Linked DNA regions of Homo sapiens: region 2 is linked to region 1. Evidence: fine-mapped expression QTL. Tissue or cell type: whole blood. Region 1 holds a variant in brackets; the other region holds the start of a gene. All regions are shown on one strand. Distances are from middle to middle.

The links.
Region 2: MCPH1-AS1 starts here. The variant in region 1 is fine-mapped to the expression of MCPH1-AS1 in whole blood (TOPMed, PIP above 0.99).

Annotation. Positions count from the first base shown.
Region 1 is chr8:6,665,389-6,670,773 of GRCh38, forward strand. The region is part of intron 1 of MCPH1-AS1 (MCPH1 antisense RNA 1); the gene reads right to left. Among named protein-coding and RNA genes, the nearest start is that of MCPH1-AS1, 40 kb to the right of the region's middle. RefSeq lists enhancers at 177-276, 417-466. The variant A/C (reference allele first, on the strand shown) is at 3,099.
Region 2 is chr8:6,706,238-6,711,622 of GRCh38, forward strand. MCPH1-AS1 (MCPH1 antisense RNA 1) reads right to left here and starts at 1,972. Exons shown (of 5, transcript NR_125386.1): 1 at 1,904-1,972. AGPAT5 (1-acylglycerol-3-phosphate O-acyltransferase 5) reads left to right here and starts at 2,405. Exons shown (of 8, transcript NM_018361.5): 1 at 2,405-2,650. The coding sequence starts at 2,432. RefSeq lists silencers at 2,159-2,498, 2,559-2,798.

The DNA.
Region 1 (5,385 bases):
GCCAAGTTTCCCCCTGACCTTCCCTTGCCCTCCTGTCTCTCACCCCTCATGCTCCCCTGAGGGAAGCTATAGAAACTAGAATTCTTCCTCTCCCGAGGTGAGTCATAAAAACCAGAACCCCTTTGCCTCAAGGCCAGCCATAAAGCCTAAAAATATGACTCTAGCCTCCCCCTGCTTTTCTGTGTAACAGCTGGCAATAAAGAAATTAAGACCCTCATTGTAGAGGGACCCTACCCTATGCCCAGGAGGAGGGAATGTGGCACAGAGAGGCTGAGAAAGATCTGAACGCAGAGGCCTTGCTGAGTTTCCCCACACCATCTATTACATTCGATCAGGACCTTTCTGTCCAGTCTTACATTTCGACATGGCTGGCTGTGCTTCATCAAATCTAAGTATAGAAATGCACAGTTCACCCTGTATCTTTGGGTCTTCATTCTGAAGGTTCCCACATCACATCAAACTATGATGAAATAAATGTGTTATACTTTTCTCATGTTAATCTGTCTTTTGTTATAGGGGCACTGGTATGACCTTTATGATGGAGAAGAAAGTGATTACCCCCTTTCTGCCTCTGCAGCCACAAAACAGATCAAAACCTATTTCAGAACAAGCTAACAGACTCTAAGAAAATTATGTAAGACATGAAAGTATGTGAATTGTTACAGCAATCAGAAAAGAATTAAAAAATTTAAAAATGCATTTTAGGAGCAAAGACTAAACAACAAATAAACACAACATGTAATGCCCTAAGAAAAACAGAGGGTGAAAATGAGGAAAGTTTTCTTGTGTGTTTGTTTGTCTGTTTTGGAGACAGAGTCCACTCTGTTGCCCAGGCTGGAGTGCAGAGGCACAACCTCAACTCTCTGCAACCTCCACCTCCTGGGCTCAACCAATTCTCCTGCTTCAGCCTCCCGAGTAGCTGGGATTACAGGCATGCACCACCACGCCTGGCTAATTTTTTTTTCTATTTTTAGTTGATATGGGATTTCACCATGTTGGCCAGGCTGGTCTTGAATTCATGATCTCAAGTGCTCTGCCCACCTCGGTGTCCCAAAGTGCTGGGATTATAGGCGTGAGCCACTGTATGCAGCTGATAATGAGGAAAGTTTTAAAAGTAAAAAAGAAGTGAAAAAAAAATATGTCAGAAAAAGTGGAACATATTGAAGACAGGCAAAGGAGATAGAACATAGGAGGTCTCGAGGAAGATACCAATGCAAAGAAGAAGACTGAATACTAAAAACGACAAGAACTATACCACATTTTTAACACTGAATTTAAAAAAGGATTTGAAGCTACATATTGAAAAATTATACCACACACTCGAAAATATTGACCCCAAATGGTAAAATTACCAAACTTAAAAAAAAAAAAGAAAAAAAATCCTTTGAACATTTTATTAGTTACCTAGGGCTGGCATAACAAAATACACAGCCTGGGTGGCTTAAACAAGATAAATTTGTTTGCTCACAGTTCTGAAGGCTGGAAGTCCAAGATCAACGTGTTCGCAGGGATGATTTCTTCTATGGCCTCTCTCCTTGGCTGCAAAGGGCCATCTCATCCTGTCCTCATATGGCCTTTCCTGTGCACCTGCATTCCTGGTGTCTCTTCCTTTTCTTTTAAGGACACCAATCATATTATATTACCAGCCCCTCTTATGGCCTTAATTACCTCCTTAAAAGCTCTGTCTCCACATACAGTCACACTAGGGATTAGAGCTTCAACTTATAAATTTGGGTAGGATGCAATTCAGTCTACAACAGATATCCCAAACAAGTGTGTAAGGTATAAGGAAAAAAAATTAATTATCATCACGCTTGTCGACAGCAATGCTTTATGCTATGAGAAAATGAAATAGCATATTATTTATTTAACATACAATATTTATATACAAGATAAATCATACAGAATACAAATATACAGTAATGCAAATATATACAAATAAATAATACAAATATCATATGTTATTATATGCTATTACAATATACAATATTAAAATAACATATAATAATTAACATACTCAAGGAAAGAATATATGAAACAAGAATTTTATATCTAATTAATAAAAGACAAACTTTTATCAACATGCCAGAACTCAGGGACTATTATTGCTGAGTCTTTCCTGAGAAATCTAGTCGACATCAAGCTTCAGACAATCAAAATGGAGAGAGAGATAAGTGACTTATGCAATGGTAGTAAGTAAATAGGTGGTACGCCTAGGCAACATAGGAAGATCTCATGGAAAGAAGGAAGAAGGGAGGAAGGGAGGGAGGAAGGGAGGGAGGGAGGGAGGGAGGGAAAGAGAGAGAGAAAGAAAGAAAAAAAGAAAGAGAAAGAAAGAAAAAGAAAGAAAGAAGAGAGAGAAGGAAGGAAAGGAAAGGAGAGGAGAGATAAACTCCCAAATTTTTAAATGGTCAAAGATAAAAAACATTTTATGAAAACATAATCTGCTAATTAGAGGCTGCAGTGTGCTATGATGGCACCACTGTGCTACAGCCTTGGCAACAGAGCAAGACCCTGTCTCTGAAAAAAATTTTAAAAAATAACACATTAGACACAGCTCAAAAGAGAATTTGTAAACTGGAAATTATATCCAAAGACATTGCTCAGGATGCGTAACAGAAAGACAAATTAAAAATACGCAAGAGAAGTTAAGAAAATGAAAAATAAAGTCCAACATATATTCATTTTAAGTTTCAGAATTAAATAGTAGAGTAACAGCAAGACAGCAGTATTTAAAGAATATTTAATAGACTAAGAAATAATGGCCAAGAATTTTTCAGAGTTCAGGAAGCAATATAATATATCAAGCAAGAGAAATAAATTAAATTCATACATGATGAAATACATAGATGAAATTCATAAATAGATTAAATTCATACATAGATAAAATAGTGAAAAAACAGATTATCTACAAAAGAATGTCAATAAGACTGACAGGAGTCTTTTTAATAACAATGGAACATGGAAGAAAGTGAAATACCTTCAATGTGCTAGAAAATAATTATAGATTTAAAAATCACAAATCCAGTGAAACTACCAAAAATGAGGTAGAATAAAGGCACTTTGAGATAAACAGAAATTGAGACTGTTTGCCACCA[A/C]ACTTAAAGGCACATTTAAATGATGTACTTCAGGAAGAATGAGACGCTCCCAGAAAGAAAGTCTGAAATGCAATGACGTTTGGCAGCTAAACAAAATGGTAAACATATGACTAATCTAAATACATATTAAGCAGATACTGATAATTACACAATCTGTGAGGTTAAAAACAGAGATTGATTCAAAATATTGTATCCCAGTAGCACACAAGCTAGAAGCAGTGATCAACGGAGGAAAACCATTCTAAGACAAGGTCTCCAACCCCTGGGCCACCAACGGATATGTTAGGAACTGGGCTGCACAGCAAGAGTTAGGAGCCGTGGGCAGGCAAATGAGCGAAACTTCATCTGTATTTACAGCTACTCCCCACTGCTCACATTACCACCTGAGCTCCACCTCCCATCAGATCAGCGGTGGCATTAGATTCTCATAGGAGTGTGAACCCTATTGTGAACTGTGCATGCAAGGGATCTAGGTTGCATGCTCCTTATGAGAATCTAATGCCTGCTGATCTGTCACTGTCTCCCATCACCCCCAGATAGGACCATCCAGTTGCAGGAAAACAAGCTCAGGACACCCACTGATTCTATATGATGGTGAGTTGTATAATTATTTCATTATATATTACAATGTAATAATAATAGAAATGAAGTGCCCAATAAATGTAATGTGCTGGAATCATCCTGAAACCATCCCCCTGCACCCTGGTCCATGGAAAAACTGGTCCCTGGCGCCAAAAAGGCTGGGGACCACTGTCCTAAAATCTTTGTGTTATTCAGAAGGATGGTAAATAGTCCTTCACTGTAGACTGTTAAGTATATATAAACAATTTCCAAGATAATCATTAAAAGAAAAGAAGTATAATACACATCTCCCAAAGCTGTAAAGAAAAATAAATGGAATACAAAAGCAAATGAAAAATTGTAGCTGACACTGTCCTTTGAGCAAACAGAGGTTTAGAATTAGTCAACCAATAAGCCTCTTGAGATTTTCCATGAGAGCTTAGGATGGTATTTGACTGTTTAGAAGAGGCACGCGAGTGGCTGTCTTTTTGATAGACAAAGAGGACAATTAAACGGAAGGAACAGTTCCTTAGGCATTCCTAGTTGGAGCTGTAATTTATGAACATTTGATACATCCCCGATTATTCAAATATTTTGTATTAATTTTTAAATCTGCACCCAATTTAAAAGTTCCATGGGTAGCTTCAGCAGGGAAAATGGACTTTTGATGGTTACATCCTTCTCTCCACCACCCCATCTCCTGCCCCCGAATCCTCCACTGCCCCCCTCGCTGTCTGAATGATGCTTATGGGAGCACCTGACGGCCAGGCAGGGCAGTGCTCCTGTGTCCAGGACGGGGGCTGCTAGTGGAGACTGCTTAGACATTTTAACAGTGAGAAAAGATATTTTATGTTTGGAATTTAACAGAGATTTTGGTTGATAGCATGAGGGCTCCCTTTAGCCCTCCTGATCCTCTAATTCAACGAGAAAATTTCCCTCACCATTTCTCCCCAGTCACAGTTTCTTTGTATTTTTCCAAAATTTTAACTGAGTTATCGGTTGTCTTCTTCAGTTTTACATTGTAATTTTGGCAGATAATTTCTTTGGCAGATAATCCAGGAGATAATAACTCCTGGACCAGCGGATTTTACCAAGAGGTTCTCATTTCTTTGGTTCTAGAGAACAGCCGCAAAATGTCAAATCCTCTAGTCTTTCTGACCAGCTGGATGCCATAGTTGTTGACAGACTGCTGCCTAGAAGTAAAAGAATTCAAAAGAAATCACTCATTTCTGCATCTCAACAGTTACAAAACACCAACAGCCCCCAAATTACAGGGTGTTATATAAGTCAATGAACCAAGCATTTGGGATTCTACAGAAACACTGTCTCAGCGGGTACTGGCTTCCTGGCCTGACCATTATATAACTATTATCCATAGCATAATTGAGGTGCTGTATATTTGAAATAAATGATAAAAAAATGCTGTAGATTATCCGTTTTTCTTAGCCATTTTTTCCAATAAGACATAGCCCACAGGGCCCTGGATAATTAACCTAGGCCTCCTCCATTTTTTTGCCAGGCCATTTAGACTTTCTCCTAAACTGACTACTGGCCTGAGGGAGGGTGTGGAGATGGGAGGAGCTGGTCCCATTGGGTGGACACTGTGTCGAGTTGGGAGGAGGGTCTGTGGCCTCCCCACAAGAAAGGCACCTTCTCTCTGCAGCTCCACCCACACCCTTTAGAGGGAGCAAGAAAAGGAAGCAGTCAGGCAATAACTGAACCCCAC
Region 2 (5,385 bases), 41 kb after region 1:
CTCCCATGGAAAGCCCACTAAGTCCCTCAAGCTTCACCTGAAATACCATTTCACTGAGAAGTCTTCCTTGTCTCCAGACTAAATTAGATTGCCTTGATATATGCTCCCAGAGAACCAAGAATGTCCCCTTTTCATCCCACAGGTAACTCCTTGTTAAATGTTGTACAAGGAAGGCATAGACAGAATTCACCTTTCACTGTTCCACTGGTGCCCAGCAGGGTATGCAAAGGAGGAAATCAGCTGTGCTCTGAAAGAAGCACCATTCCAGTAAAGGGGAGGAAAAGGTCATCAGACTGCAAGGGCTCAACAAAAGTACAAGGTAAGGAGGCAGAGGGTGTGGGCTGATTATCAACTAAGAGGTTTGCACGGAAAAAGGGAAAAAAAAAAAAACAGAAAAACAGGGCCGGGTAGTGGCAGAAAGAGAGGGTGGATCTGTGACTGTTCGCAGGAAGAGAGGAGCGGGAGCAGGACAGACAATAACTGATAGTCAGGAGCTGGGTTTGGAGATAAAGAGGGAACAAGAGAAAGTTAAGTTCTGTGTTTTCATGGCAAACATTGCACAAAAGTTTACAACTTCGTGACTAACAGTAATCTGGGGTGATTCACAACAAATTTACACATAAACACATATTTACTGACTTTATACACAGCAATCCTAACGTGAACACAGAACCTGCTTTATCTTTTCGCACACTGTTCTAGTGTAGAGATGTCTGGTCTCAGTTAAAGAAAGCATAAGGAGCATTAGTTGTGCACACTGTCCACACCTGTGACTTTTTTCCACCAGTACTAAACCTAGTGCTTCTTACAGTACAGGACAATGACAGCCACAGAAAGAGAGAAGCTCCTTTTACTGTGTAATGCTTCCTGCTGGCCTTCAAATACTTGTTACTTGAGAGATCTCCATTCACCTGGCTTTGTCCCCAAAGGTCATCATCTACCAATGATGTTGTTATTTGATGTTAATCATGTATAAAGAAAGTAGCTACCATCCTGGCCCTGATTAGAACTTCCCACTGAAATACCGTCCTGCCTAAAGGTAGCACAGGCTCCCATTATGGTGGTGGTGGGGAGGGGGCGGGAATATATATATATATATATATATATATATATATATATATATGGTAAAGCATTCGGCATTCTTTTAAAGTACAACTATCCTTGAAAAGGGTTACATATTAAACCATTTTTACCACAGCCAAAGGGGAGGAGAAAGATCCAAAAGTCCTGTGGATCTGCTTTAACATCAATAAAACAGTTATCCACCCTTCGTAGCTTTTAGTGAAGGCTACAAAAGTATGCTTTTTATGGATTACACATGTGCACGCAACTACTTTAATTACTACAGAAAAAAACGAGGCTCCTTATTAAAAAAAAATCAGAAACAAGTCCAACAGACTCTGAGGAAATGAAGCAAGAGTGAATTCTGAAAAGGTCTAATAAACAGTATGGAAATATCCTTGTGGGATTGTTCTTCAGCTATGCATAAACATGTAATTATCATCATTACTGTGATGGGGAAAAACACGGACCCTAATTCTGAAACACCCTGGTAGCGAGAGACGGGCAGGAGGGGCTGCTGCGCACTCAGAGCGGAGGCTGAGGAGGCGGCGTCCCCTTGCAAAGGACTGGCAGTGAGCAGATGGGGACACTCGAGCTGCCCCGCGACCTGGGCCGAGCTGCCTACAACCTGGGCCCAGGTGCCTGCAAGAATTAGACCTCCGATAACGTTAACACCCACTTTCTCACTGCTCTAATTGTGTGCATCCCGGCGCCCAGGGGCTTGTGAGCAGCAGGTGCGCGTTCCAGGCAGCTCCAGCGACCCTTAAACCTGACCGCGCGCACGTCCGGCCCGAGGGAGCAGAACAAGAGGCACCCGGACCCTCCTCCGGCCAGCACCCACCTTCACCCAGTTCCGTCAGTCGCCACCACCTCCCTTCCCGCGTCCGCAGCCGGCCCAGCTGGGGAGCATGCGCAGTGGCCGGAGCCGGGTTGCCCGCGCCCCAGCAGGTAGCTGTACTGCAACTGTCGGCCCAAACCAACCAATCAAGAGACGTGTTATTGCCGCCGAGGTGGAACTATGGCAACGGGCGACCAATCAGAAGGCGCGTTGTTGCCGCGGAGCCCCCTGCCCCGGCAGGGGGATGTGGCGATGGGTGAGGGTCATGGGGTGTGAGCATCCCTGAGCCATCGATCCGGGAGGGCCGCGGGTTCCCTTGCTTTGCCGCCGGGAGCGGCGCACGCAGCCCCGCACTCGCCTACCCGGCCCCGGGCGGCGGCGCGGCCCATGCGGCTGGGGGCGGAGGCTGGGAGCGGGTGGCGGGCGCGGCGGCCCGGGCCCGGGCGGTGATTGGCCGCCTGCTGGCCGCGACTGAGGCCCGGGAGGCGGGCGGGGAGCGCAGGCGGAGCTCGCTGCCGCCGAGCTGAGAAGATGCTGCTGTCCCTGGTGCTCCACACGTACTCCATGCGCTACCTGCTGCCCAGCGTCGTGCTCCTGGGCACGGCGCCCACCTACGTGTTGGCCTGGGGGGTCTGGCGGCTGCTCTCCGCCTTCCTGCCCGCCCGCTTCTACCAAGCGCTGGACGACCGGCTCTACTGCGTCTACCAGAGCATGGTGCTCTTCTTCTTCGAGAATTACACCGGGGTCCAGGTGAGCCGCCTCCCGCTCCCGGGTCTCGGCGTCCACCCGAGCTCCCGGGGGCGCGGACCTCTCCGCTCCCCCACAGCTGGCGAGGGTCACCCGGCCGGCCCGGCGGACCCAGCACGGAGAGCACGTGCCGCCTCCCCGCCTTCCTCTCCGCATGCTTCCTGCCGTTCTGCCGAGATCGCTCTCTAGGAAGCTGTGGCTGCGTCGTCCTGAGGCTACGAGTGGGACCCGCCGCCCCTTTCCCCGCCCCTCGCCTGGGTCTGATGCTGCTTAGCAAAGTGGGTGCAGATGCACGTTTTAAATAATAGGGCACGCGTTTAGCAGTTTCTGGCCTTTGGTCCAAAGAGGTGGTCATGTTGGAACAGATCGGAGACGTCTACACTCCGAAGTGCGCTTTTACAGTGACCTCTTGAAACAGAAGTACAATTCGGTCTTGTGTTCTTTCCCCTGGACAAGTGAAAGCTGGGCGAAGAAATGAATACATTTGTTAACCGTAGAAGCCTAACTAGATACATTTCTTGCCAACTTTAACTGGGCTTGAATGTGTGGGTGATCTGTTGTCTGATTACTTTCTTTCTGTTACTGTTTCTCTGTAGAGATTGGATTCGTAGATTAAACTTGAGAAACAAACCATAAAAGTGGAAGGCCCTCTTTAACAGTAGGTATTTGAAGTGTTATAAAAAAAAAAAAAAGGTGAATTTTTCTTTTATTTCTCAGTTTGAAAGAACAGCTTTATTCTTGGTTATTCCTAATGTCCACCTAGTCCTCTTTTACTTTTCTTGGTAGGGTTAGGGTGGCATGGGGAAATGGGACGGTATCATTTTGTCTTTTTAACTTTTTTTTTTTCCACCTACAGCAGCTGTTTTTACCCTGTGGTCAGTCAGGTACTATATTTAGTTTGCAGTTGCACTGCTGATCGACCCTTGATGGCCCCAGTTGGAAGTTGTTTGGGGGGAAGGAACTAGGAGAGGCCAGGGCCTCCATTTAAACCAGTGTCTGTAAGTGTCTCCTTGGAAAGAAAAAAAGATACTGTTCCAGGTCATGGTTTCCTGGTAGTTGACGTTTAAAATGGGCCTCATTTAAAAATTTCAATAATTCAGGCTAATTTTTTCCCTTTATATGGTAACTCCACCAAGTTTGTCTAAATGTATGATTTTTATCATGATTAAGTTTTTACTTCCACATCATGTGACAACTGGCCTGGGATGGGATATAAGCTCAGAACACAAAGTCATTCACCTCTTAAAAAAATAATTCTATCTGTGGCGGGTTATGTTATTTTTGTTCAAAGAGGACACAATATGATGCAGAATACACCATTGAAGGATTTTTTGGTTTGGCAAGTTCTTATTTTTTTAAATGGCTGTAAAACCTAGCAGTGTTTCTGAAATTGCATACCTTACCTGATGTTCAGAGATCCGATTTACTTCTTGATTTCCCAGCAAGTGATTTTGAAAACATTTAATCTAATCATTCCCCCCACCGTCTGTTCAAATCAAAGGAAGTGGCATCCAGCACTAATTTTCATGCATTTATGAAAGGATGCCTGAGGACCCTTAAGTATAATTCAAAATTTTGTTTAATGTGTGTTCCTTGATGAAGTTCTTTAGGAGTCGTAGAACGAACTGATTGCCCACTGATCATCAAATGCAAGTTATGAACATTTAATAAAAATTTAAAACCAAGAGTTTCTTGTTCCTGCATTTTTATTTTTATTGTATGGAGGGGACAAATAATTATTTTCTGTTTAGTAACAGAGCAGGGTATTTTGAATTTATTAGGGTCTTTTTCTGCAATCTGGGTTTCCTGTGTACACAAAGCTACCTTTCAATATTTTTTATTGTTTCTGTTAAGATTAAATCAATAGAGGAATAAATAGCTATCTTCAAACATAAGACCCAAAGGAAAAAGATTTATAGTGATGTTCTGTCACCTTATTTTTTACCTGTGACTTTGTACCATTAACTTTGTCACTGAGATGTTTTGATTAAAATTTTTAGCTTGCTTTTCTTGTTTTGTTAGGACACTCTTTTTTTCTTGAATTGTTTTTATCAGCTTTCGTTTGCAAGGCTAGTGATGATTCTCTTGTTCTGTATAAAGTATTGTTGACTCATTTCTGAAGGGAGTTTTAGTAATTTAAGAGGTTATAAGTTTTTAAATAAAAGGTTTATTAATTTATATATATTAAAGAGGCATTTTAAAATAAAATTTTTTTTAAATGACATTTTTACACCTTTCAACTCTAGGTTTAAAAAATAAGTGGTTCACAGTAGTTCTTGCAGAAGAATATTTTCTTTTACATAGAATTTTTAAGCTGAAGAGAAGTAGTAGTAGGTCCATGAGATTTATGATCTGTGCTTGGCAGGTAAACCTGCTTCCAACAAATTTAGTTGGATTTTTCTTGGATTCTGGGTAAATACCTTTTTCTTCCCCAATTTCACTACTTTATTTTCATATGTATCTCTGAGATAGAGAAATATTTCAGTCAGTGCTGCTAAAATTGTTCCTTATAACTCGTTTATCCTTTTAGGTCCTTCCAGAATCTCTCATTGGTACTGAAACTCAAATGGGTACTTTCTTCACCATTTATTTCTTTAGAATAAGTAATAAGAATTTTATAAGCTTTTTTATATTTCACGTAATTTGAGACTATTGAAAATCCAGTTAAGTCTCTCTACTGTGTTGAGAGGCATTGATTCAAGTACCTGTGTTACTTTCCTGTGCTGCCAAAACAGATC